Linked DNA regions of Homo sapiens. The protein of the gene in region 4 interacts with the protein of the main gene of each other region in a biochemical or structural test. Each region holds a gene or a part of one and is shown on either strand. Other genes may lie near its edges. The genes, in order: DDX3X, IRF5, RIGI and MAVS.

Region 1 (7,025 bases), on a different chromosome or scaffold from region 4:
AATTAAATTTGGACAGTTTCTACTGAACAGCACAAGCATCTTGGTGTGCCGCCTTCTGTAGTATATACAATAGTAATATTGCATTTGCTTAGAGCATTGCAGACTTGAAAACATTCTTAGTCACATTCTCATTAAGGGTTGGTATTAGCCCTGTGAGGTGGACTGGGCAACTACTTGAATGCAGTACTAGCAAATGCTAGAGGGCAGGACTAGTTTTCTCTTAATGTAGTATTTGAGCACATGGGGTGCTAACCATCTCACTCTCTTCTAGTTTGCTGGCCTAGACCTGAACTCTTCAGATAATCAGAGTGGAGGAAGTACAGCCAGCAGTAAGTACAACATCTTGTGGGTTTATTGAATATTAGAGCTTAACATCTTAAGATTTCATTGGGCTTATGTAAAATTTAAGAAATTTGCCTTTCAATTTTTTACTGCTTAAAGAATTATGTAGTCTTTGTGTTATAGAATTATGTAGTACTTAGTGATCAATCTAAAGCATCGTTGCCTTTTTTTTTTTTTTTTGGTTGAGATGGAGCTTTGCTCTTGTTGCCCAGGTTGGAGTGCAATGGTGTGATCTCGGCTCACCGCAGTCTCTGCCTCCGGGTTCAAGCGATTCTCCTGCCTCAGCCTCCCGAATAGCTGTGCCTTTCTGATAATAAAACATCAATGACTAGCTGGCTCTCTTGAGTAAAAGCAGCTAATCATTGGAAAGAACCTTATTATATCAAATTATCTCTAGAAGAGTTTTTGTCCATTATAAATCCTGAGCCCAGTTTAGAGGTGATGGGAATGTGTCCCTGTTAACTGACTATATTTATTAAATTGAATTAAGGGAATATGCATTTCATTGGTTATAGCTACTCCTTTCTCCTGAAGAACAGAAGACTATACTGAATTTTGGATTGGTGGTTAGGTTAGGTTTTCAAATGTGTCATTTCTTTTAAAAAGGCATTAGAAAAGTTGCTTTTTTTCTTCTAAGGGGGGTTATTTAGAGACTTGTTAGAGGTTAGTGTTAAGATAGGGGATCTTGGTGGTTTATTATAAGGGCAATAGACCCTTATTTTTAGCTCAGATCTCTTCCTACTTATTAAAACAAAAGTGAGTATGGGCTATGATGTGTCCTCATTTTTAGGCAAGAACAGCTTCACTGGGAACAAAACTTGGTGTTTGCTTTAACTTTCACCTTATTTGTCATGCTAAGAATCTTTTAGGAACTGATTGTCCTAGTAGAGATTTTTAAAAATATTTAATTCAGTCTAGAAGTGAAAAAGAAAAATGACACGTTTACTAGTTATAAAGCAAATTTATTTGGCTTTATGTTGTTTTTTTTGCTTATCCATATTCTAGGCTGTACTCCTGCTCGCATACAGAGCAACTGTCAACTTTCCTTAAACTCAGCAAGCCCCAAATTAAAACCTGCAATTCCTTGAAATTAACTCCCCTTTGCAGCTTTTCCTTGTTTATTTATTGTATGTTTTGCAACTTACTGGCATAGAAACAAAAGATTGTGAGATATGTTACATGAGTAATCTTAAATTGTTACAGTAATACTTAATGCTTTTGTTGACAGTTTTGATGACAGTTCTCTTAAATCTAGCAGGCCTTTAAAAAAATCACATTAAATGACCACTGGTGGCTAAATGTGCTCAATTTGTGGATTTCAACTATTAGGTTCCAAATCAGCTTTTTTTTATCAAACTCCTTTCAGAGTTCTCCTTATGAAGCAGTAACCCATTTAAAATTAGATTCTTATTTTTCCCCCCTCTCAGTGTCCAGGTAAGTAATCAGATTGGAAGGCTGGAGATTTTAATTTCCCAGAACCATTTTTTAGTAACAGAAATTTAAATGGGAAGGTTTTTTGGCATTTAATTAATTTTATATATATATATATTTTTTTAGAAGGGCGCTATATTCCTCCTCATTTAAGGAACCGAGAAGCTACTAAAGGTAGGTCCTCACAAGTAACTTCGTAGGTCTATTTTTTGCCTCCTTTAGAAGTTAGTAAAGCCTAAGGAAAACCAGGCATTTGGGGGAGGTCTAAACATGGTGTTGTTTTTCTATGCTTCTGTCAGCCTTGGTTCAAATACTAGAGCTTAATAATTTTGGAAGAACTCATCTAATGTTACGCAGTGGGAAATTCGGCATTCCTATGTCAAACTGTTCTGACGCCAAGGGCATGGTTTTGTACAGTTTCACTAGTGTTGTGCTGAATCTGTTTGTAATCATTCACAGCATGGTTTTAGTTTGGAAGAGGTGGGTGCCCTACTGTGTAAACCAAGCTGTATAATGATAACAACCTGGTTATTTCTGTCTTGGCAAAGTTGCTAGAAATGAAGATGGGCTTATTGTAGAACAGTTAACAAGTTACAGCGTTGGAAGTGATTCTCTGGTTTCATCTCCTTGCCTTGCTGCTTTTGAAAGGTTTTGTCCAAAATGTATTACAATATCTGGTGTCTTTTCCCATTGTAATTGTAACGTAGTGATAGATGACAGCTAGTATATGTTTCATATTATGAGACAGCTGTTCGGGTGCTTTATATTCTGTAAAATAGACCATCCAAAATTTGGAGGAAAAGGGAAAGTCAGGAAAACCAAAGATTAGGAGGGAAGATACTGTATAAAGAAGGCAGATAGGAAGAGTGGAGAGTCCACAGGGGAGCACATGGTTTGCTGCTGTTCCTCCATCTCCATATGTAGTCTGTATTACCTTCACTGTCCTGGCAATGCATGGATATAAAATCTGTATTATTTCTACCAGAAGATCACTTTGGCTTTTTTTTTTTTTTTTTTTTTTTGAGACGGAGCCTTGCTCTGCTGCGGAGGCTGGAGTGCAGTAGCGCGGGCTCACTGCAACCTCCGCCTCCTGGGTTCAAGTGATTCTCCTGCCTCAGCCTCCCAAGTAGCTGGGATCACAGGCATGTGCCACCATGCCCGGCTAATTTTTGTATATTTAGTAGAGACGGGGTTTTGCCTTGTTGCCTAGGCTGGTCTCGAACTCCTGACCTCAAGTGATCCACCCGCCTCAGCCTCCCAAAGTGCTGGGATTACAGGCGTGAGCCACCATGCCTGGCTGGCATTATATTCTTTTTAGGGGAGGTTACTTTGGAATTTGTCTTTATCATCATGGATGTTCTCAATATTCCTAGTATACTAGCTAGAATTGACCCTCGTGTATATGGCAGTATCATAGAGGTTTTAGAGCTGGTAGAGATCTGGCAATCTAACTTAACTCTTTCTTGCTAGCAAAGGCTGTTGGTCACCTGACTGGCCTAACGGTAGGAGGTAGAAGGCAGAAGGAAAGTAACTGAATTGAGAAGCTGTTTCTGTTTAATAAGGTGTTGCTGAAGCTAGTTAAACCCTCTACCTGTCTTTAAACCCTCTACCTGTCTTTGGGTTAATTTACATGTTTGTCATCCCCTTACCTGGATATTTATAGCTGTACCCAGGAACCTTGTCTATACTGAGAATATATAGTGATGAGGGTTTTTCTTTTTCCCAGGTATTCCTGATTGTCATCAAGCTTATAGTAGATGAACCACTAAAATAATACTACAATTTGACATTAGTGTTCTTGTACTTTATACTATTGAAACTGAAAAATACTGTATTAAACCAAGTAATCTGACAGTCTATGAATGTTCTAAATGAATACCACCTCCAAGAAACATGGAAACAATGGTAACTGTTTTTCCTAGTAAACTCATTCACACCTATAAAATGAATGGAAATTAAATTGTTATGGTCACACAACGTCATAATGCGTTACAGGCAAAGCTGTTGACCACTTAGAGGTAGTATTCATTGAGAAACATTCTTAGACTGTCAGATTGCTTGATTTAGTGTAAAGTAATTTTTTTTTTTTTGAGACAAGGGTGTTTCACTCTTGTTTCCCGTGCTGGAGTGCAGTGGCGCAATCTTGGCTCACTGCAACCTCAGCCTCCCGGGTTCAAGTGATTCTCCTGCCTCAGCCTCCTGAGTAGCTGGGATTACAGACGTGGGCCACCACGCCTGGCTAATATTGTATATGTAGTAGAGACGGGGTTTCTCCATGTTGGTCAGGCTAGTCTCGAACTCCTGACCTCAGGTGACCTGCCCGCCTTGGCCTCCCAAAGTGCTGGGATTACAGGCGTGAGCCACCATGCCTGGCCAGTGGACAGTATTTTCTAGTGGGGAGAATTAAAGAAAAACTTTGTCCGGGTGTAAACCAGCTTTAAATCTTGGTTCTCTTACAGTGCCATGGTAGGGATAGTCAGTGGAGGCTTTCAAATTCAGAAAGATTGATAATACCTTAACATGGTTCCTATTTCTAATTAATAATAAAATGTATTTGTGCTTTTTTAATCAAAGGTTTCTACGATAAAGACAGTTCAGGGTGGAGTTCTAGCAAAGATAAGGATGCGTATAGCAGTTTTGGATCTCGTAGTGATTCAAGAGGGAAGTCTAGCTTCTTCAGTGATCGTGGAAGTGGATCAAGGGGAAGGTAAGTGATTTCTTAATCACCTTACGTGTATGTATAATAACAGTTTAATAAGTCGTTATCCTGACCACCTGTTTGGATGTTAAGCATTATGTCTGTTTGGTCATTGTATTTTCTTAGCCGTAAGAGGCTTTTACTAAATTGAACCTGTTACTTAGAAATTAGATGAAAATAGGAATATGCTCATTGGCATAATGAAATGAGTTATTCTATTTCTCGAGTTTTATATGTTCTACTTAAAAGAGTAAGTTCATCTAGTGAATGGCCTAATTTGGTTGGGATTTTTGTGGACTCTATAACAATTTCTAAACACCTTGTATTTTTGATTACACAAGTGTGGTGAACTGACCCCACGTGCCTAATAGCTGTGGTTAGTCCTGTGTCCTGATTTTTCGCAAACAGGCCTAAAACTCTTAAAAACATCTTAGTTCAGGTAAGGATTATTTTCTACCTTTTATCCAAAGTCTGTCACACAGGTGAATTGTCCTTTAAGTGACATCCTAGTATAACTAGGACGATTGATATTTGGTGTGCTATTTTCTTGTTTTCCCTACCATTAAATATATTTGGATGAGCACTTTAAATGAAGGTTGTGAGCTGTGTGCCGATTTCAAATAAAATCCTTATTCTTAATTTTGGCATCTGTGAGGCCTTTTAGGCTATACAACTTTATAGAAATGTAAAGATTACTGATTTTAGAAAACGAGGTTATGTAAATGATGCTGGTTAGAGAGCCTTATTTGTCAAGTAACTCAGAATTGGATTGTTGACATCCTTATGGTTAGCCATAACTTAAGTCTCCAGATACAGTTCTAGAGTAGGGATAAGAATCTGATAATGGTTAAATGATATGATTCTGATTAATTGCTTGTGCTGTTCAGGTTTGATGATCGTGGACGGAGTGATTACGATGGCATTGGCAGCCGTGGTGACAGAAGTGGCTTTGGCAAATTTGAACGTGGTGGAAACAGTCGCTGGTGTGACAAATCAGATGAAGATGATTGGTCAAAACCACTCCCACCAAGTGAACGCTTGGAACAGTAAGTTTTTGAAGTGTATGTTACTTGTGATGAAGCCTTACTAGCTAGTATAACAAATGAACTTATCCATTTTTTGATTTGAGGGAACTCTTTTCTGGAGGCAACACTGGGATTAATTTTGAGAAATACGATGACATTCCAGTTGAGGCAACAGGCAACAACTGTCCTCCACATATTGAAAGTGTGAGTATTTTTGCTTGACTTTTTAAGACACAGAGAGGTTAAATGTTTTCATGTTACATTAGAATGTGAGATGGGCTTCATAAAGTCATGTAGACCAGAGGCTTCATAGATTTGTGGAAAAGGAGAAGTTGAGTTCAGTGTCACCATTATGAATAATTTATTACCTAAAATAGAAAATGGGTCAAACATAGGAACAACCCAAAGTCTTCTCCAATGTGCAGTAAGCCTGGGGGTTGGTTTTTCTCAAAGTATAATGTGATAATTTTACTTAAACTATAAACTGAGTTACCAATCAGCTGTTGGTTGGTTGTTTCCATTATTAGTATAAAACAGAAATAGCTCTAGATAGCATTCCTAACCCCATTGAATTTCTTAACAGTTCAGTGATGTTGAGATGGGAGAAATTATCATGGGAAACATTGAGCTTACTCGTTATACTCGCCCAACTCCAGTGCAAAAGCATGCTATTCCTATTATCAAAGAGAAAAGAGACTTGATGGCTTGTGCCCAAACAGGTAAGCTCAACTCATAAGAGTAAAACATCATATTTCTTCTGTAAAGGACTAGACAATAAAATATTTTATTTTTTATGGGTCATGCAGTTTTGCAGCTGCTCTGCGCTGCTATTGGACTGTGAAAGAAGCCATAGATGATACATAAATTATTGGTTACGGCTGTATTCCGTAAGAGCTTTATTTATAAAAATAACAGGCTTTATTTACAAAATAGTCTCAGTTTGCTGACTCCTCTTAGAGGTGGAGCAGAGAAGCCACTTTTTGGAAAACTTAAGCATAAACTAAAAGTACTAATTATTAGTAATAGGGTAGTTAAAAAACACTGTCATCTACCAATGTCTGTTTAAAAGTAATGAGCAGGATTTGTTTGTTTGTTTTTGAACAGGGTCTGGAAAAACTGCAGCATTTCTGTTGCCCATCTTGAGTCAGATTTATTCAGATGGTCCAGGCGAGGCTTTGAGGGCCATGAAGGTAGATGTTTCTTTATAAAATGGGAAATTGTAGAACTTTGTAGGTGGCCATTGAGAGGGCTTTCTAAATGATGCTAAGACTTAAGTAGAATGAAAACCAGTTTTCAAGTGTAATCTGTAATCTATAAATTACAAAAGGGAATTATGTTGTGATGAACTTTTCAAACAGGGTAGGTAGAGTTAACTTAAAAATTAACTTATTTCTTAGGAAAATGGAAGGTATGGGCGCCGCAAACAATACCCAATCTCCTTGGTATTAGCACCAACGAGAGAGTTGGCAGTACAGATCTACGAGGAAGCCAGAAAAGTAAGTATGAGTTCCAGTGATTATTAGCTTTTT
Region 2 (6,879 bases), on a different chromosome or scaffold from region 4:
TTTTGTTTTTTCTTTTTTCTTTTGAGACGGAGTATCGCTCTGTCACCCAGGCTGGAGTGCAATGGTGCAATCTCGGCTCACTACAACCTCCGCCTTCTGGGTTCAAGCAATTTTCCTGCCTCAGCTTCCCGAGTAGCTGGGATTACAAGTATGAACCACCACGCCTGGCTAACTTTTGTATTTTTTTTTTTTTAGTAGAGACGGGGTTTCCCCATGTTGGCCAGGCTGGTCTCGATCTCCTGACCTCAGGTCATCCACCTGCCTCAGCCTCCCAAAGTGCTGGGATTACAGGCGTGAGCCACCCCACCCGGCCAAGAGGTGTTAAAATCTAAATCAGACTATGTCATGCCTCAGATCTGAACCTTTCAGTGACTGTCCCTAGCAAAGCCATAGCCTGTGAGGTGCCCCTCAAGGCCTCACCCGATTTCATTACTTGAGGATTTATCGTCTATCTTACTCTGCAGAATGGAAGCTCCAGGAGGGCAGGGGTTTTTAGACAAAGTAGAAATTGTCCACCACTTTATCCTGGCAGGTACAACATGCCCGATAAGCATTGTTGAATGTAGACTCACAGCCAATTCGTGACACTGGTGTCACCATTCTCCTTTACAGATGGGAAATGGGGCTTCTGGGGGAGTGAATGGCTTGCTTAGGTCACGCAATTCTAGATTGCAGAGTGAGGATTTGACTCAGACCTGTTGACCTCAGAGCCTGATGTCCAGCCAACAAGTTCTCAGAAACTCGGGGTTTCTGAGAAATAGGACAGTCAGCCTGGGGACCCCTGAGAGCCCAGGCCGAGGGGGTGGGTTTCCTGGGGTAGAGGTTTTGAGAGGCAAAGGCAGTTGTCATCAACCCAGGCTGCACTGAAGGGGGCTGTTCCAGAGCCAGGGTGCATTGTTCAGCTGCCCAGTGGGCCTCTGGGTTTCTTTCAGTTCCCTTTGGTGACACGGCTTCCCTCCTCCCCCCTGCTCCCCACCCCAGCCACCCCACTCTACACTCGCTCACACAGCGTAGCTTCTACTCGAGTCAGGGGAGGGTGCCTCCTACCACACCCTCAGTCTGTGATATTCCAGCCAGGGGAAATGGGGGAAGGGGCCATCTCACTGTGGGGAGTGGGGGGCCCGGACAGACCTCCCTGTCCCCACCGCCTCCTGGCCCATCAAGGGGAAATGGGAGTGCTCACACAAGGGCCGGGTGTGGCTTCACTTCCCCTCTACTTGCCCTTCCACCCCCAGGATGGCACTGGGAGGCCAAGGGATCCCAGATCCTGGAAACACTGGAGTGCTGCTCTCTGTCCTTCCTTTCTCCTGGGCCATGTCTCTGGCCCCAGATGATTCTTGGCTCAGGTTCTTTCAGTTGAGGGAAGTCAGGATCTGAGCCAAGCTGAGCCCCTGCATAGCCTCTATCCCGGGAGCCCCATATCAATGCTGCCGGCTTGGTAACATCATCCCCCTTTTAGAGACGAGGAAATGAGATTTGAGGTCCTACTTAAGGCCACTTGGCTGGAATACAGCAAAGCCAGGTGCAAGCCCCTTCTCTGCACGCAGCCCGTGCTGCTTCTTGAGGTTCAGAGGCTCTAAGGAAGGGGCCTCACCTGAGCAAGATGGACAGTGGGAAGGGGGCAGAGGGCAGAATTCTAGGGTCTCACGGTCCCTCAGAATGGGTGAGGAGTATTTGATAACAAAAGAAGGCTCTTCTTAGCTATTGCTCCAGATACGACCAGCATAGAATATTTTTCTATTAAGCATAACTGACCTCCAGTGAAAAAGGTTCCCATTTTGTGGGGAGCCACTTTTGAAATAGCAATTTCATTTTATTATTATTATTTTGAGATAAGATCTCACTTCTACGCCCAGGCTGGAGTGCGGTGGTGTGCCTCCTGGGTTCAAGCAATTCTCCCACCTCAGCCTCCCAAGTAGGTGGAACTATAGGTGTGTGTCACCACGCCAGGCTAATTTTTGTATTTTTTGTAGAGACAAGGTTTTGCCATATTGCCCAGGCTGGTCTCGAACTCTTGGACTCAAGTGATCTGCCTGCCTTAGCCTCTCAAAGTGTTGGGATTACAAATGTGAGCCACCGTGCCTGGCCTAGCAATTTCATTTTTAAAGAAAGAAATATAAAACGATCTACCCATTCACATTTTCCCCATCCATACTTTAAATTTTAAAAATATGAAATAATGAAATACTCAGCAGATACAAATAATAAAATACTTATATATAATGATATTTCGACTTCATATTAGGGCTTCAAAGGTCAGGAAAGAGGGAGAGATACAGAAGAGAAAAAAAAAAAACGTTAACACATGAGTGTCTTTTTTTAACTTGTTAAAGGTAAAGTTCAACCCAGGAGAAGGGAGGGGAGGGAAGGTCAAAGTTCTGATTCATCAACAAATACTACTTTATTTGTTAAAAATACAAGGCTCTGCTTGGCGCAGTGGCTCCCGCCTGTAATCCCAGCACTTTGGGAGGCCAAGGCGGGTGGATCGCCTGAGGTCAGGAGCTCGAGACCAGCCTGGCCAACATGGTGAAACCCCGTCTCTACTTGGGAGGCTGAGGCAGGAGAATCGCTTGAACTGGGGAGGCAGAGGTTGCAGTGAGCTGAGATCGCACTGCTGCACTCCAGCCCGGGTGACAGAGCAAGACTCCATATCAAAAAATAAAATAAAATAAAATGAACAATGAAAAGACAGGAGGGAGGTTCCTGAGTAAGCTGATTCGAGTGGAAATCAGACATCAAAATTGAAACCCGCTGAATTTTCCAAAAAGCCAGATGCTCATAGAACTGAAGCTTGAGACACTTACATCAGTACACCTGCTGCCTGTTGACCAATTCCTCTTCCTTGTCCCTCCTGTTTTCCTTCCCTGCTATATAAGCCCCTAACTTTAGTCAAGGGGAGGGATGGATTGGAGGTTTGTCTCCCCTCTCAACAGCTCACTGGCTGATGTCACCGGAATAAAGTCTTCCCTGGCAATACTCGCTGTCTCAGTGATAGGCTTTCTGTGCGGTGAGCAGCCAGACCTGGACCAAACCCCTGGCAATCCATAACAAAATCATAAGCAAAATCAACCAGGAAGCTATTTGCACCCTGGAACCCCACCTGGGAGGGGAAGTCAAGGCAGACTTTCCAGAGAAGGCGATGCTGAAAATTTCAGAAACAGAAATTTTGAAGAGCAAGAGTTACCAAGCGAAGAACATTCCATGAGAAGGAACAGGAGGTGTGTGAAGGTGGAGGTTCTGGGGTGAGGTTCTTTATGGAATCGAAAACGGTTCAGAACCACAGGTCGACGGTCAAGGTAGTAGTGAGAGGAGGTGGGACAGGCGACCACGCCGCTGCCCCTGGGATGACTGGAAGGCGACTTAGGGGAGCTGGGGCGAGACAGGTGCAGGGTTTGAGGATGAGAAAGGCACAGAGTGACTAGAGGATTCCCGCCTGCAAGCACATCTGGAAGGGGTGTCTGGATCCTGGGGGCAGCGACTGTGTTCTAGGGCGAGAGCCACCCTCGCCAGGGGTGTAGGCAGGCGAGAGGAGGGCCTGGAGCTGTGGGTCGGCCACACTGCGCCCTCATTTGTGTGCAGCCCCGGAGGACCAGAGTGGGGAAGCACCCCACCCTCTCCCAGGGCCCAACTGAGCACTGCAGCGGGAGGTACGGGGTTGTCAAATGACAGTTTTGCCATTCCAGATTGCCAAAAGAGCCAGTGGCCAGTCTAGGGCACCGCGCCGTCTGGCATCTCCCTGGAGGCCCTGGGCCTGGCCCGAGGCTCAGCCCGGATCTGCAGTTGCCAGGTCAGTGCGGGGCCCGGAGTGGATTCGCGGGGCGGGGCGGGGCACTGCCCGCGCCCGGAGCTCAGCAGCAGCTGCCCAGGGGCGGGGGCGGCAAGACGCGGAAGTGCCCGGCAGGTTGGCGGACCGGCGGGAGGCGCAGCCTGGGCAGAGCTCAGCTTGGTCCCGCCGCCCGGCCGGTGCTCCCTGGCGCAGCCACGCAGGCGCACCGCAGACAGGTGGGTCCCGGCCGCCGCGCTCTCCTCTCTGCGTCCGCGCCCGGCGCGCCCCGAGGGTGGCGGGAGCGGTGCCGGCTACTGCCCCCAAGTCTAGGCCTAGACTGGGCCCCGCGCCCCCCAGGCACCTGCGGGCGGCGGGATGAAGACTGGAGTAGGGCGGGGTCCGCGTCCAGCTGCGCCTGGAAAGCGAGCTCGGGTGGGTGCCTACAGCAGGGTGCGCCCGGCCGGCCTGGGACTTCCAAAGCGCCTCCCACGCCCCGATCGGTTTGGGGTGCTGGCGCCCGGGGAGCCCAGTGACCCAGGCGGCGGAGTGGGCAGCGCTGCGGGGGGCGCCGGCTCTGCTGCTCTCCCTCCCCCTCGCCATCGCCCAGAATGGGGGTTCCCGGGAGCCCCGCTGGAGGCTGGCTTGGACCACAGAGGAGCGAGGCCCGATCCTTACTTTCGATGCACTCGCCCTTGCTCTTACCGGGCCACCCTCACCCTTTCGGAAAAGAGGTTGAGGTTAAAGCGTTCATCCCCCGGGATCTTCAGGCCAATGGCAGGAACTGTGCAAGAGTTTGGGGGAAGATGGTGTCAGGTAGAGGCTGCGTCCCTGGGCTCGCGGCCGGGAATGGCAGACTCTCGTCCCCCGAGCAGCGGAAAAGGATGGGGCGCAATAGTTCCTGGGCTGGTTTCCTCAGGTCCTGTCCCAGAACTTAAGAAGGCAACAATGAAGAGGCTAAACGTGGAGGAAAAGTGAGGCTAGCATGGCCGGGATGCGTGGGGAGATGGTTGTCTCCGGACCCCGGGAGGGGCGGGAGCGGGTACCTGGGAGCAGAGGCTGGAGTGGGGGACTTTCCCAGCCTCGCGGCCACGCTGAACACAGCAGGGCGAGGACCGGGGTGCTGCTCCTCCAGCAGCAGGAGGAGAGGTCCAGAGGCCGACTCTGGAGGTGGGGGTGGCTCCGCGGGCTGGCCCAGGGGGTGTGCCCCAGCGGAGCACGCGGGAGGGGTGGGGGCGGAGGGGAGGGGGGAGCAGGGGCGGAGGACTGGGCTGGGCCTGGGCTCCTCGAGGGCCCAGAATGGGGATAAGTGACCAGAACCAGAGAGGGCTCGGCTGTATCGATGTAGGAAACTGTAGCCCCTCAGGAGGCCCTCTGGCAAGACCTCCCCTTCCTGCCCCCACCCCCAGTAGTTATGGGGCCTGGGGTGCTGGGGCTGAGGGGTTCCAAGAGTCAAGGGAAGCACTGGGAAATCACCCCTTTTTATCTAAAGGCCCTACTTTGGGGTTTTTCCCCTGTACCCTGGTCTTCCCCTACCCTGACCCTGGGAGGAAGCTGAAAGAAGCTTCTTTCTGGGCACCTTTTGCCCCAGAGCCTCAGCCTGTCTGGACCAGGTGGGCAGCAGGGCCCAGGGTGTGGGCAGCTGACCCGGAGGGGTGGGATTTGGGGGTCAGGGCCTGTACAGGGAACCCCTTGTCCTCTCCCTGAGCTGGGTGTGGGTTTGCAAGGAGACATGTGACCCAGACCAACCCTGGGAGCAGCAGGGCGCCTGCTGTCTGGCCACTCTTACTAGGACTGCTGTGGCACTTCCTCCCCTAGTGGGTCCCTGGTGCCCATGAATTGCAGCTCCTGGGTGGTGGTGGGGGCACTGTCTCCTGGGACTCCAGCATGGCCCTGGGGTGAGCTGTGGGCTTACCCCACCTCAGCAGGTCCTCTAGGGCTGCCCACTGGATGCTTCGCTGCCTCACACAATTGTAGGGACTTCCTCAGGCTGTTGGATTTCCCCACCTTCCGGGGCTCAGGTCCATTGACTTAGGTCTAGGGCTCCATACATTTCACCCAGAGACTCCGGAGCCTGGCAGGCAGACCTGTTCTGACACCGAACTTCCAAAGTCATGGGCCTTGATTGGGGTGGTCTGAATTAGACCTAGCCCTTTTCTGGGCAGAAGGGAGCTTCTAGGAGGATGGATGCTGTTCGGGTTAGAGCTCGTGTGGACCTAGCTGCAGGCAAAAGCCTTGAGGCTGAGTCCCTTCTGTGGCATGGTGGACAGACTCTCGCTCATCACAGCCGGGCTTGTCACGGGAGCTCCTCCTCCACACCCCTCCCTAAGCTGCCTGTATGGACGCGGCCCTCTGACACTGAGGTCGGAGTTATCATTTCAAAACCTTGCTCTGTATTAAACAGCCGTGTTGGGCAGGGCCAGACTGCTGGACTGACAGTAGGGGGCAGGCAGCCGGACCCTCTGAGCTCCCCAACGGCACCAGCGCCTGCACGGCCTCAGCCCAGGGGGTCATTAGGGAAGCTCTCCCCGATTCTGTGCAGACAGAGCTTCCTCTGTCCACCCTTGCTCGGCCAGAATTGTGTGCCGCTGGTGACTGGCACCCCTCTATTCTAGGGCCAAGGCCTCTCAGGGGTCTACAGATACAACTATGGGTGGGTGCACACCCATGTTATAAACCACACTAAATGCACAAAAACTGTCTGCAAGTTTGGGGTGCGGGGAACAGCTCTGGGTGGGAGGTTGGAAATTTGGTCTGGGGGACCCACTCGGCTCCCTCCCTCAGCCCACAGTGAGTCTGGTTTCTGAGTTGTCCCGGTCTAGCCACTTTCGTTTCCCCTGGGGCCGGGTGGAGGCTGGGGCAGAAAGCGGAACTGAGCCCGCGTGTTCTGAGGCCAGGGCAGGGCTGGAGCGTTCTGAACACCTCCCCGTCCCAGCCCCTGGGCCAGGCAAGGGCCGGCCTTACCTCTCCTGGGTTGGTGGCAGCAGAGCTGGGCTCTGAGGGAGGCCTGCAATGTGAGACAGTAGCAGCTCAGAGGCGGCACTAGGCAGGTGCAACCCCAAAAGGTACTGGGCAGGGAATTTCAGGGGAAACTGAGGCTCCATGCTGCAAGGCCA
Region 3 (7,025 bases), on a different chromosome or scaffold from region 4:
AGAAAATAATGCATATAGGTGAGGATGTGGAGAAACTGCAACCCTGTGCCTGATTGGTAGGATTGTAAAATGGTGTTAACAGCCATGGAAAACAGTATGGCAGTCCCTCAAAAAATTGAAAATATATATCACCATATGATCCAGCAATTCTGCTTCTGGTGTATTTCCAAAAGAATTGAAAGCAAGGTATTGATGAGATATTTGCACATCCATGTTGATAGTAGCATTATTCGTGATAGCTTACAAGGTAGAAGCAACTCAAATGTCCATCAGTGATGAATGGATCAACAAAATGTGATATACACATACAATGGAATATTATTCAGCCTTAAAAAAAAAAGGAAATCCTGGCACATCCTGCAAAATGGACATACATTGAGGGTGCTGTGCTGAGTGAAATAAGCCAGTCACAAAAAGACAAATATTGTATTTTGCCACCTATATAGATTATCTAAAGTAGTCAGATTCATAGAAACAGAAAGAGTGGTGGTTACCAGGAGCAGGGGTGAGGAGAGAAAAAGGAATAGTTGTTTCATAGAGTTTTAGATTTGCAAGGTGAAAAAGGTCTGGATTTTTTTTTTATAACAAAATGAATTTAACACGACTGAACTGTACATTTAAAAATAGTTAAGATGGTAAATGTTTTATCTGTTTTTTACTACAATTTTAAAAAAGAATGAGGTTGAACATCTTATGTATGTTTCTTGGCCATTAGTATTTTTCTCTGAACTTTCTAAATATGATTTTTAAATAAATATCTTTTAAAGGCATGTAGAATAATATTAAGTAAATTTCCCATTTACTTAATATTATCTTAGAAAAATTAGAAGGAAAGTTCCTTGTGGGCAGGAATTAAGGTTTATATTTCTTTTTGCCTTCTTTACTGCTTTCCACTGAGAAGATACTTAATAAACCTGTTGACTCTGACTTTTTAAAGACAAATCAGGGATTGTAGGTGAAGTCTATGAGTCACTTTGGAAGAAAGATTTTATACTAAGATCAAAATGTAAGACTTCAAAGTTTTCCTTAGTACTTTTTCCCAATAGATAATAAATATTGCTAGAAGACCTAAAGTGTTGGCTGACTAAAATGAATACTGTTTTCTTTTTGAAAAATCAATGACAATTGGGGGTAATTTACAGATATTTTTTGAATTCTACCACCATACATTCAAACATGATTTCTATGATACTAATCTCAAAGTATTTTTCAGTTGGTTTCATAAAAGTCCACATTTTTTTTCTTTTTTTTCAGGTTATTCTGGACTTTATGAAGCCATTGAAAGTTGGGATTTCAAAAAAATTGAAAAGTTGGAGGAGTATAGATTACTTTTAAAACGTTTACAACCAGAATTTAAAACCAGAATTATCCCAACCGATATCATTTCTGATCTGTCTGAATGTTTAATTAATCAGGAATGTGAAGAAATTCTACAGGTAAGTTAATATAAAATACTAAAATTGGGGGAAATAATTATAACATGGGAAGGTCTTCTGTTTTCTATACTGTTTTAGACCTGAGAAAGATCATTGAAACCCACAAAAGTACTCATAGAATAGTACTTTTTTTTTTTTGAGACGGAGTCTCGCTCTGTCGCCCAGGCTGGAGTGCAATGGTGTGATCTCGGCTCATTGCAACCTCCGCCTCCTGAGTTCAACCAATTCTCCTGCCTCGCCTCTCGAGTAGCTGGGATTACAGGTGCGTGCTACCATGCCCAGCTAATTTTTGTATTTTTAGTAGAGATGGGGTTTCACCATGTTGGTCAGGCTGGTCTCGAACTCCTGACCTCGTGATCCACCCGCCTTGGCCTCTCAAAGTGCTGGGATTACAGGCGTGAGCCACCGTGCTCAGCCAGAATAGTACTTTTAATGTGAACTGAGTAATTTTTATGTCACAAAGTTTTTTTGAAGTTTGCCCTATTTTCAGTTAAAATCACCACAGTCTGTGAATAGTATTTTATGCAAATTTAAATTGAACAGTTGAGCAAATGAGAAAGGGCTACAGACTCTAGCAGTTAAGTGTTTAGACTCTGGACACAGATGAATTTTGTTAGAATCATAGCTCAACCACTAGCGGTATGATCTTGGGCAAGTTACTTAGTTTCTCTGAATATCTATCTGTTTCCTTGTGTGTAAAATGGAAATAATAATGTTACCTTATAATATGGTATTTTCATAAGGGTAATGAGATAATATATGTAAAGTACTCATGTATGTCTTGCACAGAGTATGTGTACAATAAACTTTAGTTATTATGGTTAGTAAAAGTCATACAAATTCCTCAACCCTGAAGAAAAATTTGTTAATATTTTGTTATCTGTTTCCAAATATTGCTATATGCCAATATACCCATATTGGGAATGGTTGTCAAATGATTATTTTCTTAATATTGCTGATGAGGATAGGTATAAGAACTTAGAGGTGATGAGAAGGCTTGGCTTGACATAGTGACATCATGTGTAAAGGACAAAGATGAAGGAAAAAGTATCTTAAAAGACTGTGTTGGATGGGGCAAAAATTGTCATGGATATGACCCACTGAGCTGTAATGTACAATGGCTTTAAATCAGATAGTACATGACTGACATTTCTTCAGTAAAAATTGATAAAGGGAAAACTTTTGAGATAATTGATCAATAAACTACAGTTACCTTGCTTAGATTTGCTCTACTAAGGGGATGATGGCAGGTGCAGAGAAATTGGTGGAATGCCTTCTCAGATCAGACAAGGAAAACTGGCCCAAAACTTTGAAACTTGCTTTGGAGAAAGAAAGGAACAAGTTCAGTGAACTGTGGATTGTAGAGAAAGGTAAGACACTGTACCCTCCTCACAGCTCTACTTAGGACTCGCTCATTCCAACCGGTCTTTTACATCCCATCAGAGGCGTTTTTCCCCTCAGATAGCCAGAGCTACATCTCTAACGCGAGACCAGCAGGAAGCTGGATTCTGGGAGGGAGGCAGTTACTTGCCTACAAAATTAGTTTGGTTGCATATAACCCCTAAAAATGGACTGGGGAAAACCACTCTCATCCAGAATTAGCCCATCTGGCCCAAAGGATTTGAGGAAGGCAAAATCCGAACTCTCAGTCTAAGTTTAGATTATCAGAGAAATAGCTTGAGAATTCTAGAGTTAAAGGTTCAAACTCCAGGACTTACCCCCTTTTCAGAGTTGATTTCTTGACAGACATTGCCTGGTTCTCTTACTGGAAGCCATCTGGAACTGAATCCGACGGGTGAAAGAATTGGTTGTCATTAAGTGTCTGAACTATCATTTGGTTTCTTGAAGCTGACACTCAGCATTGTTTCAAAGGCTGAGTTTGGTAAACATCTGAATATCTGGTCTTAGCTTTCCTAGGCTTCTTTAGATCATAAGTTGTTTCAGAAACTGTATAAATACACATCTGATTTAATGGGTCAAGAGTCAGTCAGAAAAGGAAGACATGAATGTCTGCTAAATCATGCTCTTTTTTTTTTTTTTTTTTTTTGGTGCATACGAATCCCTCCGAGGTCTTGTTAAAATGTGGATTCTGATTCAGTAGGGCAATACGTTCCACACTTTGAGTAATATAGCTCTAAATTACATTGGAGGTCAACGCCAAATTGAGATTTTAAACTCAAAATGATTCTTTCAACTGTTTTAAAAGGTGAAGGGGAGTGGTTGTGAGAAATTTTAATAGAAGTTAAAAATCTTAGTGTTATGACCATTTTGTGGAGCTTTCACCATCAAAACTATAATCAGATTATGTGAAGATTCTAAGACTTTTTTGGTCTTAAAAAGGTATAAAAGATGTTGAAACAGAAGATCTTGAGGATAAGATGGAAACTTCTGACATACAGATTTTCTACCAAGAAGATCCAGAATGCCAGAATCTTAGTGAGAATTCATGTCCACCTTCAGGTACCTGGTATTGTTTGTCCTTTTCCATAATGGTGCTCTTCTGGTATTTGGTGTGGGGGCTTGTTTTGCAGTACCCAAAGTCACAGCCTTGTGAAAAGTTTTGTAAGGAAAATTAAGAAAGTAAAGAGAATTTATGTTACAATAGATACTTTTTCTATATTTAGAATGCCATTCTCTCCTAGTTCTTCCACTATCTTTTTTTCTTCTTTTACTATCTTTTTTTTCTTCTTCTACCACTAAGAAAGTATGGGCGTGTCTATATTGGAAATGCAAATAGAGTCTTCACCAAAACCCAATGTCTATGAATTCCCAAATCAACCTTGCTTTCTAAATAAATACTACTTCTATTTCTGAGTCACTTGCTCAATTTCCTTTTAGGATCCCTGGGCTGCCCTGCAAGTTGATGAAGTTAGTGTGCTACCCAAATGCGCCTGGCTGAGAGGTTGAGTAGGGGCTGAGATCCAGCCTGTGTCGTTTGCAACACAGTGCACTGAGGGGCTGTGTCCTCCAAGAGGAGCTCCCTTTTGTCATTTACACAAAGGCACTGTATAAGTTAGCTGTGGCCCTGTGAGGCCCCCTTATGCTTCTCAAAGCATATTTTCTTGATGGTTTTATGAGACCGGCAAGTTGCATAATATGCCATAATAAAAAGTTATGTATAAAAGAGTATCAGGAAGGAAATTGGGATTAATAGTGGTGGTAGAAGAAAAATGATATTAGAATAACATCATAAAGAGAAAATGTGCAGATTACGTCTGCAACTGAATGTTACAAGTTTTTTTGTTTTGTTTTGTTTTTTTGGTCATTTCAGAATAAAATCTGTTACCCCTTGGAAAAAAAAAACAGATACATGAATATGAGTTGCTTTAAATTTTCTGACACGTGAAGATTCTTGCATGCCTTTTGTTGTTGTTGTTGTTATTGTTTTTTGAGACTGAGTCTCTCGCTCTGTTGCTCAGGCTGGCGTGCAGTGGCACAATCTCAGCTCACTGCAACCTTGGGTTCAAGTGATTCTCCTGCCTCAGTCTCCCAAGTAGCTGGGACCACAGGCATGTGCCACCACATCTGGTTAATTTTTGTATTTTTTTTGGAGAGGTGGGGATTTCAGCATGTCGGCCAGGCTGTTCTTGAACTCCTGACCTCAAGTGATCCATCCACCTCAGCCTCCCAAGTGCTGGGATTACAGGCATGAGCCACTGCACCTGGCCTTTACATGTCTTTCGTGTGAGTTTAATTCACTTAACCTTTTAGAAATTCTCCCTTTCTCTAAAATGGGTAGGTTAGACTCAGTAGATAATTTCCAAAGTCTTTGCTAGCTCTTAATGATTTATATGCCTACCTGTTATTGAGATAAAGCCTTTGATTATTTTTTAAAACTTCTGGTTATGTTGAGAGAAAATATCATTTGAGAACTTGAAGAACGACAAAGCATTATTGCTCCTTAATAAGAAATTGCTTTGAGAATCCAATGTTAACAGTTTGGTTTTCTTCAAAGATCGTGGGAGGATTTGTTGCTTTTTTCACATACAGCATTGCCTTTAGTAGACAGCTTGTCTTACCCTGAATGGGGCCATTCTTTCTTTGGTTTCTGTTAGCCTTCCATGATTGTATAAAAAATAATTCATGTTTTTTTTTTTTTCTTTCTTGCCATCAATACTTTGTCACTGAGAGAATTCTGTACTTCAAATTAGTGGAAAAGCTAGAATGGTTACCAAGAGAAAGGATTCTAAACTTTCTCCAATGAGGATCTTCTTGCTGGAGTCAGAATTTGTGGACATTAGACTGTAGCTATTGCCGTGATTCCTCAGAGCAGGAACTGTTTGGTAATTTTGCTCCTTTTGTATTCCAGAAGTGTCTGATACAAACTTGTACAGCCCATTTAAACCAAGAAATTACCAATTAGAGCTTGCTTTGCCTGCTATGAAAGGAAAAAACACAATAATATGTGCTCCTACAGGTAAGCCTATTGCCATTACTTACATAGTTTTTCTGTTTGCTTCCTTTTTTTTCTTTTGTTGAATACTGGGACAGAATGGGCAAGTTTCAGTTTTTTCCTTGTTCCATGTGTCTTTTGAGAAAACTGTCCTAATATAATCCTAATGTTTTTTATGGGATTATGTAATTAATTAATTATGTACATTAATGTATTTAATGTATTTTCTTTACCTTTCATGAGAAGGTAAAGAAAAGTGTCCTCTTTTAGCTTGCTTTTGGGTCCTGGCTGTTGGCATGCTACTTAGGGAGCAGCTTGATATTTTTTAGTCATAGTGTAAATTCTGTAATCATTAACATATTTAAATTATCAATTAATTAGTCAGCTCAGTGGTATTAGAAGAGCCAAAAATAAACACCTTTCCAGAGAAATATCTAATATATGAGTTACATGTTTTCTTTTTTCCTTACATGTTAAAAGGTTGTGGAAAAACCTTTGTTTCACTGCTTATATGTGAACATCATCTTAAAAAATTCCCACAAGGACAAAAGGGGAAAGTTGTCTTTTTTGCGAATCAGATCCCAGTGTATGAACAGCAGAAATCTGTATTCTCAAAATACTTTGAAAGACATGGGTAGGTATAATAGTTGCTTCAACTTCTTTTTCTCCAGCTTCATGTAATTGATGTGTTTTCTGTTTTGTTTTTGACAAATGATTTAAAAAAATTTATATTAGATTCAGCTTTTTTATAATCCAGATGTTATCCCTTCATGGATTCAAGTCTTTTTTGTTAGATGTACCAGAAAACTTAAACTCCCCTGGTTTGCCCTTCTATGGGGAGTAAATGACTTCAGGAATAAATTTGATGTTTACGTGGCACATTTAACTTCTTTAGTGATTTTATAATTTATTTGATATTATTCTTTTACGTACTCTTTTCTCTCTTAGTGACTTAAAATAATATATAGTACTATAAATTACAACTAGCTTGGATTTATTGATCTCTTACTATGTGTCAGGCTCTGTGCTAAGGACTTGCCTACAGCTATTCTTCTTTTGGACTCAGGGAGAATTTAATCAGTTGATGTTCTGATCTAGCATTTCATCTTTGTGGTTCCTTATCCACATCGTGGTTAGTAATATGGAATTTCTGTCATTTCCCAGGTATAGAGTTACAGGCATTTCTGGAGCAACAG
Region 4 (7,025 bases):
GCAGGCAGGGGTGAACAAGATGGCCATGAATTGATAATTACTGAAGTTGGGTGATGGGCTCATGGGGATTTGTTATTCTACTCTCTCTACTTTTTTGTGTTTGAAAGTTCATAATAAATAATGTTGCTCAAAGGAAGCTATTAATAGTTTGAGGCCAGGCAGGGTAAAGAGCATCTCCTAGATTTTTTTTTTTTTTTTTTTTTTTTTTTTTTTTTTTTTTTTTTAGAGATAGGGTCTTGCTTTGTTGCCCAGGCTTGTCTCAAACTCCTGGCTTCAAGGGATCCTCCCACCTCGGCTTCCCAAAATGCTGGGATTACAGGCACAAGCCACCACATCCAACCTCCCTCATATTTGACTAAGAAGTCTCATAAATCTGAGAACACCTAGCAAGGAATTAAGGCGAGGGTGTGGCACTGTTCTGGCTTCAGTCTATCACCAGGCAGAGTCCACGCATTCTTCCCAGGGAGAAAGAAGCAGTGACAGCTCTTGGGCTTTGAGGGAAATGATTCAGCGGGAGAAAGAAGGTGGAGAGGGGCTAATATGCAGATACCATTGCTGCAGGTGGCTCTGCCCCTAAGCACTGAGGAGGGCACTGGTCCCTCTGGCCCCACCCAGCCTTCACCCCAAGGTGAAGTACGCTTTCTCAGGTCCCCAAGGATGGGTGGCCAGGTCCCCCACTGGGAGTGGAGGTCTCACTCCCTTCCTTGGGTTCTGACCTCCACATTATCTGGCTGTGAGGGTGACCTGCCTGGCTTTCCCCACCAAGTGCAGCTCCCCGCAGCTGAAAGCCACACTCTCAACACAGGACTCCTGAGATCTGACACTGGCCAATTCACACCCTGCTTGAAGCTGGCATTTGAGAGGCCTTCAGGTTGACAACAGCAGCAACAAGTTTGCTGTTCAAAGTAGGCCAAGTCACGGCTTTGAGCGGCATCATTTGAAAAGTGCTGGGATCAGCCAGGCGCAGTGGCTCACTCCTGTATCCCAGCACTTTGGGAAGCCAACGCAGGTGGAGCACTTGAGGTCAGGAGTTCAAGAACAGCCTGGCCAACATGGAGAAACCCCGTCTCTACTAAAAATACGAAAATTAGTCGGGTGTGGTGGCAGGCCTCTGTAATCCCAGCTACTCGGGAGGCTGAGGCAGGAGAATTGCTTGAACCCGGGAGGCGGAGGTTGCAGTGAGCTGAGATCATGCCACTACACTCCAGCCTGGGCAACGGAGTAAGACTGTCTCAAAAAAAGAAAAAGGAAAAAAAAAAGTGGTGGGGTTTGGGTGCAGTGTCTCACATCTGTAATCCCAGCACTTTGGGAGGCTAAGGCAAGATCTCATGAGGCCAACCTGGGCAACATAACAGCATGACCTCATCTCTATAAAAAATTTAATTTGGCTGGGCGCGGTGGCTCACGCCTGTAATCCCAGCACTTTGGGAGGCCGAGGCGGGCGGATCACAAGGTCAGGAGATCGAGACCATCCTGGCTAACACAGTGAAACCCCGTCTCTACTAAAAGTGCAAAAAAATTAGCCAGGCGTGGTGGCAGGCGCCTGTAGTCCCAGCTACTCTGGAGGCTGAGGCGGGAGAATGGCCTGAACCCAGGAGGTGGAGGTCGCAGTGAGCTGAGATCGCGCCACTGCACTCCAGCCTGGGTGACAGAGCAAGACTCCATCTCAAAAAAAAAAAAGAAAAAAAAATTTAATTAGCCAGGCATGGTGACAGGTACCTGAAGTCCTAGTTACTCAGAAGGCTGAGGCAGGAGGATCGCTTAAGCCCGGGAGTTTAAGGATACAGTGAGTTATGATTGCACCACTTCGCTCCAGGCTGGGTGATTCTCTAAAAAAAAGAAAAAAGAAAAAGATGGGAGGATGGGAGGCGGGGCTAGGGGACTGGGAAGGTCCCTCAACCCTTTCTACATGCCTTACCCAGGGTATCTCCCATCATGGCTGGTTACTGTGCTAAAATTATAATTTTTTTTCTTTGAGACAGAGTATCACTCGGTCACCCAGGCTGGAGTGCAGTGGTGCGATCTCAGCTCACTACAACCTCCGCCTCCTGGCGGGCTCAAGTGACTTATCTTCCCACCTCAGCCTCCCATGTAGCTGGGACTATAGATGGGCGCCGCCATGCCCAGTTACTTTTTGTATTTTTTACCTAGGCTGGTAGTGTGCTAACATTCTACCACTTGGGCAACAGTCTTCGGGGCTACATACTGCCTTTTTTTTTTTTTTTGAAACAGAATACCACTCTGTCGCCCAGGCTGGAGCGCAGTGGCACAATCTCGGCTCACTGCAACCTCCGCATCCTGGGTTCATGGAATTCTCGTGCCTCAGCCTCCTGAATAGCTGGGATTACAGACGTCTGCCACTACACCTGGCTAATTTTCTTATTTTTGTAGAGACGGGGTTTCACCCTGTTGGCCAGGCTGGTCTTGAACTCCAGACCTCAGGCGATCTGCCCACCTTGGCCTCCCAAAGTGCTGGGATTACAGGCGTGAGCCACTGCGCTCGGCCCATGTTGCCTTTTTGAGATACTTTTTTCAAAGCTACCCTGGAACGGTAATACAATAAAACTAGTACCTGTGCATAAATTGTTAACTGACCTGCCCAGCATGGGTACCTAACTGGGGTTTAGGGTAGGGGGACAGAGGGCTTTTTAAGATTGGTGGTGGGGGATGGGGATTAATACAGACAGCTCGGGTAGGGTCCACTCCTGGTTCCAGGGTGCAGGTTGCTGGACTTGGAGCATGGGATGAAGAGATGTTCAGAGATAGAGATCATTAGGTTGCTGAACTCCCCTAGGGCAGTGGAGTGAAAAAGCTGTAGCAGCCAAGGCAGGGTGTAGATCCCTGGAGGCTGACGGCTTGGGGTGGGGCCACAGTGAGCCCAGCCCCTGATGGCTCTAGTTCTTGTCCCTTGCAGAGCTCAGAAATGGAGGTGGCTCCTGTGCCTTGTCCAGCAATGGTTCCCTGAAAAGAACCCATAAGGATACCCCCAATCCACCCCAATGTGTTTCTGGTGTTATTGTAGATAATCTCCCCAACAGTGGGTGAGCTTGGGGTGAGGGAACCTGGCTGCTGGGAGTGGAAACGCCCTATATCCTCCATCCTGTACAGCTGCCCAGTGGACATACCTCTCTCCCCAGCAATTTCTCAAGGCACAAGATAAAGTAAGGGGCAAATACAAAGATAAAGCTGTGAGGCAGGAGGGTCTGAGTCTGCCTCTAAAGGAGTAGCCAAGACTCCTGTTTCTCTGCATTTTTCTTTTTCTTGAGACAGGGTCTCGCTCTCTCACCCAGGTTGGAGTGCAGTGGCACGATCCTAGCTCACTGCAGCTTCAAGCTTCTGGGCTCAAGTGATCCTCCCACCTCAGCCTCCCAAGTAGCTAAGACGACAGGTGCACCACCACGCCTGGCTAATTTTTTAAACTTTTTTGTAGAGATGGGGTCCCTGTTGCCCAGCATGCCTGGACCCTCAACACTTAATAGTGATAATAACATATATCCAACCCTTGGTAAATGCCAGGACTCATCCTAAGACCTACATCGATAAACTCCTTTAATCTTCACAACACTGGGAAATATATATATATACTTATCCTCCTTTTACAGGTGAGAAAACTAAGGGACAGACAGATAAATCCCTTGCCCAAGGTCACAGAGCTGGTGAGAGGCAGGTTGGGACGCAGGCCTAGGCTGCCTGTGCTGCAGAGCTGCACCCTTGACCACTGTGCACTCTGCCTCTCATGCCCTCAGCTCTACCAGGTTGGGCAGGAGAGAGATGGGAGAAGCAGTGGCCACTTGCTCTGGGCCAGGCACTTGGCAAACACCTGTAGGTTCAATCTCAGAAGAACCCAGTGAAGAATGAGCCAGATACTCACTGTCCACGTGGAGAAGCAAGACCAGAAGTCTGACATCTGCCAAAGCCACACAGCCCCGGAAGTGAGGGAGCTGAAATCCAAACCTCTGCCTGAGCTCTGCCCACCAGGTGTCTCCTCCCCAGCCCATGTAGGGAGCTGAAGAGAATGGAGACCAGAGGGGAGGGAAAGAGGAGGCTGGAGAGGAGCTCCACAGGTCTTCCTCAGGCCTGACAGCTGCCCCTGGCTTCCCTGAGGTCCACAGGAACCTCCAGACCTTCCCAGGATTGCCCAGCAGGGGAGGGGGCCCAGTGGGGCAGGAACTCAAGGCAGTTGGGCTCCTGGAGAGCAGCCACCCTGCCGCTCCTGCCTGCCTCAATGCAACGGTCTCAGGCTGGGCTGCCAGGATGGGAGGCAGGTCTTGTGGAGTCGCCCACACACCACATACCTGCCCTGAGGCCTTCAGGGACCAATGCAACAGGAGAGGCATTCCCAAGCACCACATGTTCCAGTGGTCCCTCCTGCTCCACCTGGGCCAACAGGGCTGAGGCCTGGAGGAGGAAGCTCCTCTGGAGGACATGGATGATAACCTGGATTGCCAGTGGGGAAGGTCTGGAGCACTGGGGGCAGCCCAGGACCCAGAAAGCCAAGGACGGGGACCCACACAAGGCACCGTGGGGACAGAGATGCTGCTCTCAGGACTTGGTTCAGCCAAGGCATGTCCTGCTGCCAGGCCTGCAGTCCCTTAACTCCCCTCTGACCCAGCCTCCACAATCCCCAAGAAAGGGACAAGGGGCTTCGGAGAGGGGCCAGGTGTACTGCAGGAACGGAACAGATGGGTGGTGGGAAGAGCCCAGGGCTTCACTAGTGCAGACGCCGCCGGTACAGCACCACCAGGAGTGTGACTACCAGCACCCCTGTCACAGCCACCTGGAGCCACAGAGCCCCAGGTGAGGGCCTGTGGCATGGCACCTCCCTCTCCTGGAACTTCCGGTCGGCTTGTGGCCTGGGGCCGCCATCCGGGTCCGCAGGTGGCCCAGGGTTGCCCTCCAGGAGCTGGATGCTGGGGTTCTCAGCCACGTGGATCCCAAAGGTGCCCTCGGACTTATACTCATTCTCCTCTGGGCCATGGCAGGGCCCCATGCCCAAGGAGGTGCTGGCACTGATGGCAAGATCCTCGAAGCAGCCCGAGAACGGGCTGTCTACCTGGGATGCCAGCACGCCAGGCTTACTCAGCTCCGACCCAAGGCCCCTATTCTCAGAGCTGCTGTCTAGCCAGGCTGAGCTGCCTCCAGTGGCGCCGGCGGGTGTTGGAGCTGCTGGGGTCTCCTGGGAAAGAAAGGAGAGCACTGGAAGGGACTGGGGTTGGCAGGGAGACGAACCTGGTAGGGCGGTCCCATTCCCAGGCCAGGGCATGAACTAACACTCCAACCCCTCAATTCCCAATCTATAATGCCCCTAGGCCACCTTTTCTTGGAGCAGTGGGGGTAGAGGGGACCAAGAATCTGCACCAATGGTGGCCTCCTCCAGGGCAGCCTTTCCCTACTCCCTGGCCTGCCTGTGAGCTCATGCCCACCTGGAAGCCTTTGGTAGGGCGGGGCTCCATCCTGCACTGACATCCTGCCTGGGCCTGAGAACTAGAGAGCAGCCACAGGGTCAGAGGCCTGGCCATGTGCCCAAAGGGCCCTATGGACTTGGCTCTTCCCAGCAGACAGCCGCAGCTAGGGTTAGATGTGAGGCTTGGAGCAGGCAACAATGGGGGGCTGCTGGGTCCGAGTGGCTGCTCCAGGTGGGACTGCGTTCTGTAAAGCCTGGCCATGGAGGGACACACCAGGCATCCTGGTGAAGAGCAAGGCAAGAGGCAGATGGGCCACTGTGCTGTCCCCGTCACTGCTTCCTTATGTGCAAAACGGCACCGCTCGGCTTCACTAGGAACTACGAGCCCTAAATGAACTTATACACCTGACCAGTGGGTGCCCCCTGTGGCTGACCCTCCTGAGGTGTCCAGACTTAGAAGCTCAATGACTGTTCCTCCTGGAGAACATGGTGTGGGGCCTGCATGAGGCTGGTTCTCAACTGTCTGTATGCCCTCAAGGAGAGGCCACAGAGCAGCACAGGCTGGACACAGAATGCAGACTGGGAAGGGGCCAAGGCCAGGGCCAGGTGGGCAAGCTGTCCCGGGGGAAGGGGCCAGGATCCCTGCCAGGAAGGGCGAGGACTCACCTCATTTCTGCTGCTCCCGTCAGTGGGGACTGTGCTGGCAGACACCTTGGTGAGCACCATGCTAGTAGGCACTTTGGATGGCACCATGCCAGCACGGGTTGAGTTGATGGGCAATTTGGATGGTGCTGGATTGGTGAGCGCATTAGAAGGCACTGCACCAGGGGGCTTTGAGCTAGTTGGCAACTTGGAGGGCACTGTGCTGACAGATGCTGGGTTGGCAGGCACTTTCAGGGCCACTGTGTTCACAGGCATCAAGGTGGTAGGCACTTTGGAGGGCAGAGAGTTGGCAGGTGCCTCTGCCCCACTGGAGCAGATGATAGGCTCGGCCTGGTCACTCTCTGCACCCTGTTTACCCTCTGCAGCCCCTGCAGAGGCCAAGCCAGGGGATGAGGAGGAGAAGGAGGTGCCAGTAGATACAACTGACCCTGTGGGTCCAGGCAAGCGGCTTGCCCTGGGGGTGGAACGGGCCAGGGGCTGGAAGGAGACAGATGGAGACACAGGCCCACGGGATGGTGTGAGGCTGGAGGTCGCACCTGCCGGTGGAAAAACACAAGTGGAAACACAGACCCAAAGACCATTACCTTGAGGCCTGGAGAAGGGTCCCTCTGGCCCAGATCTCATGGTCCCTACTGTGTCTAGGCCTCCAAATCTCCTGCCCTTGGAGGAGATGCCACAGTCCCTTTGGTCACTGCTTCCTGGCCTGAAAGCCCAACAGCTGCCCTCAGTCCTTGACCTGTAGCCCCAGGTCTGTCCTGGCACACAGTGAAATGGTACCTAGGAGCCTGAAGACCATTATTAATTATTCTCTCCGCTTTTTCCTCTCCCACCTGGGAAACCTCCCCTCTCCTGTGTCTACCTTTTCTACTTTGACCTTAGCCTCATGCAATCCTGGACACTTCCCCCACTGCTGTCCCTCTCCTACCACCATGAGTGGGAGCAGCCATGGATCAGGGCA

Evidence for each region.
Region 1: the proteins of MAVS (region 4) and DDX3X form a complex in vitro, tested with the Homo sapiens proteins (one study listed by BioGRID).
Region 2: the proteins of MAVS (region 4) and IRF5 form a complex in vitro, tested with the Homo sapiens proteins (one study listed by BioGRID).
Region 3: the proteins of MAVS (region 4) and RIGI form a complex in vitro, tested with the Homo sapiens proteins (one study listed by BioGRID).

The regions. Positions count from the first base shown.
Region 1 is NC_000023.11:41,337,137-41,344,161, forward strand, and holds part of DDX3X (ATP-dependent RNA helicase DDX3X), read left to right. Parts: intron 1-271; coding exon 272-329; intron 330-554; exon of another isoform or gene 555-1,899; coding exon 1,900-1,947; intron 1,948-4,347; coding exon 4,348-4,480; intron 4,481-5,358; coding exon 5,359-5,517; intron 5,518-5,600; coding exon 5,601-5,700; intron 5,701-6,079; coding exon 6,080-6,215; intron 6,216-6,600; coding exon 6,601-6,686; intron 6,687-6,893; coding exon 6,894-6,992; intron 6,993-7,025. UniProt on the Homo sapiens protein: Multifunctional ATP-dependent RNA helicase. The ATPase activity can be stimulated by various ribo-and deoxynucleic acids indicative for a relaxed substrate specificity.
Region 2 is NC_000007.14:128,934,048-128,940,926, forward strand, and holds the start of IRF5 (interferon regulatory factor 5), read left to right. Parts: upstream 1-3,879; 5' UTR 3,880-4,002; intron 4,003-4,169; exon of another isoform or gene 4,170-4,198; intron 4,199-5,078; exon of another isoform or gene 5,079-6,879. UniProt on the Homo sapiens protein: Transcription factor that plays a critical role in innate immunity by activating expression of type I interferon (IFN) IFNA and INFB and inflammatory cytokines downstream of endolysosomal toll-like receptors TLR7, TLR8 and TLR9.
Region 3 is NC_000009.12:32,488,172-32,495,196, reverse strand, and holds part of RIGI (antiviral innate immune response receptor RIG-I), read left to right. Parts: intron 1-1,254; coding exon 1,255-1,436; intron 1,437-2,645; exon of another isoform or gene 2,646-2,658; coding exon 2,659-2,806; intron 2,807-3,776; coding exon 3,777-3,896; intron 3,897-5,745; coding exon 5,746-5,853; intron 5,854-6,309; coding exon 6,310-6,463; intron 6,464-6,993; coding exon 6,994-7,025.
Region 4 is NC_000020.11:3,863,834-3,870,858, reverse strand, and holds part of MAVS (mitochondrial antiviral-signaling protein), read right to left. Parts: intron 6,604-7,025; coding exon 6,071-6,603; intron 5,177-6,070; coding exon 4,712-5,176; 3' UTR 1-4,711.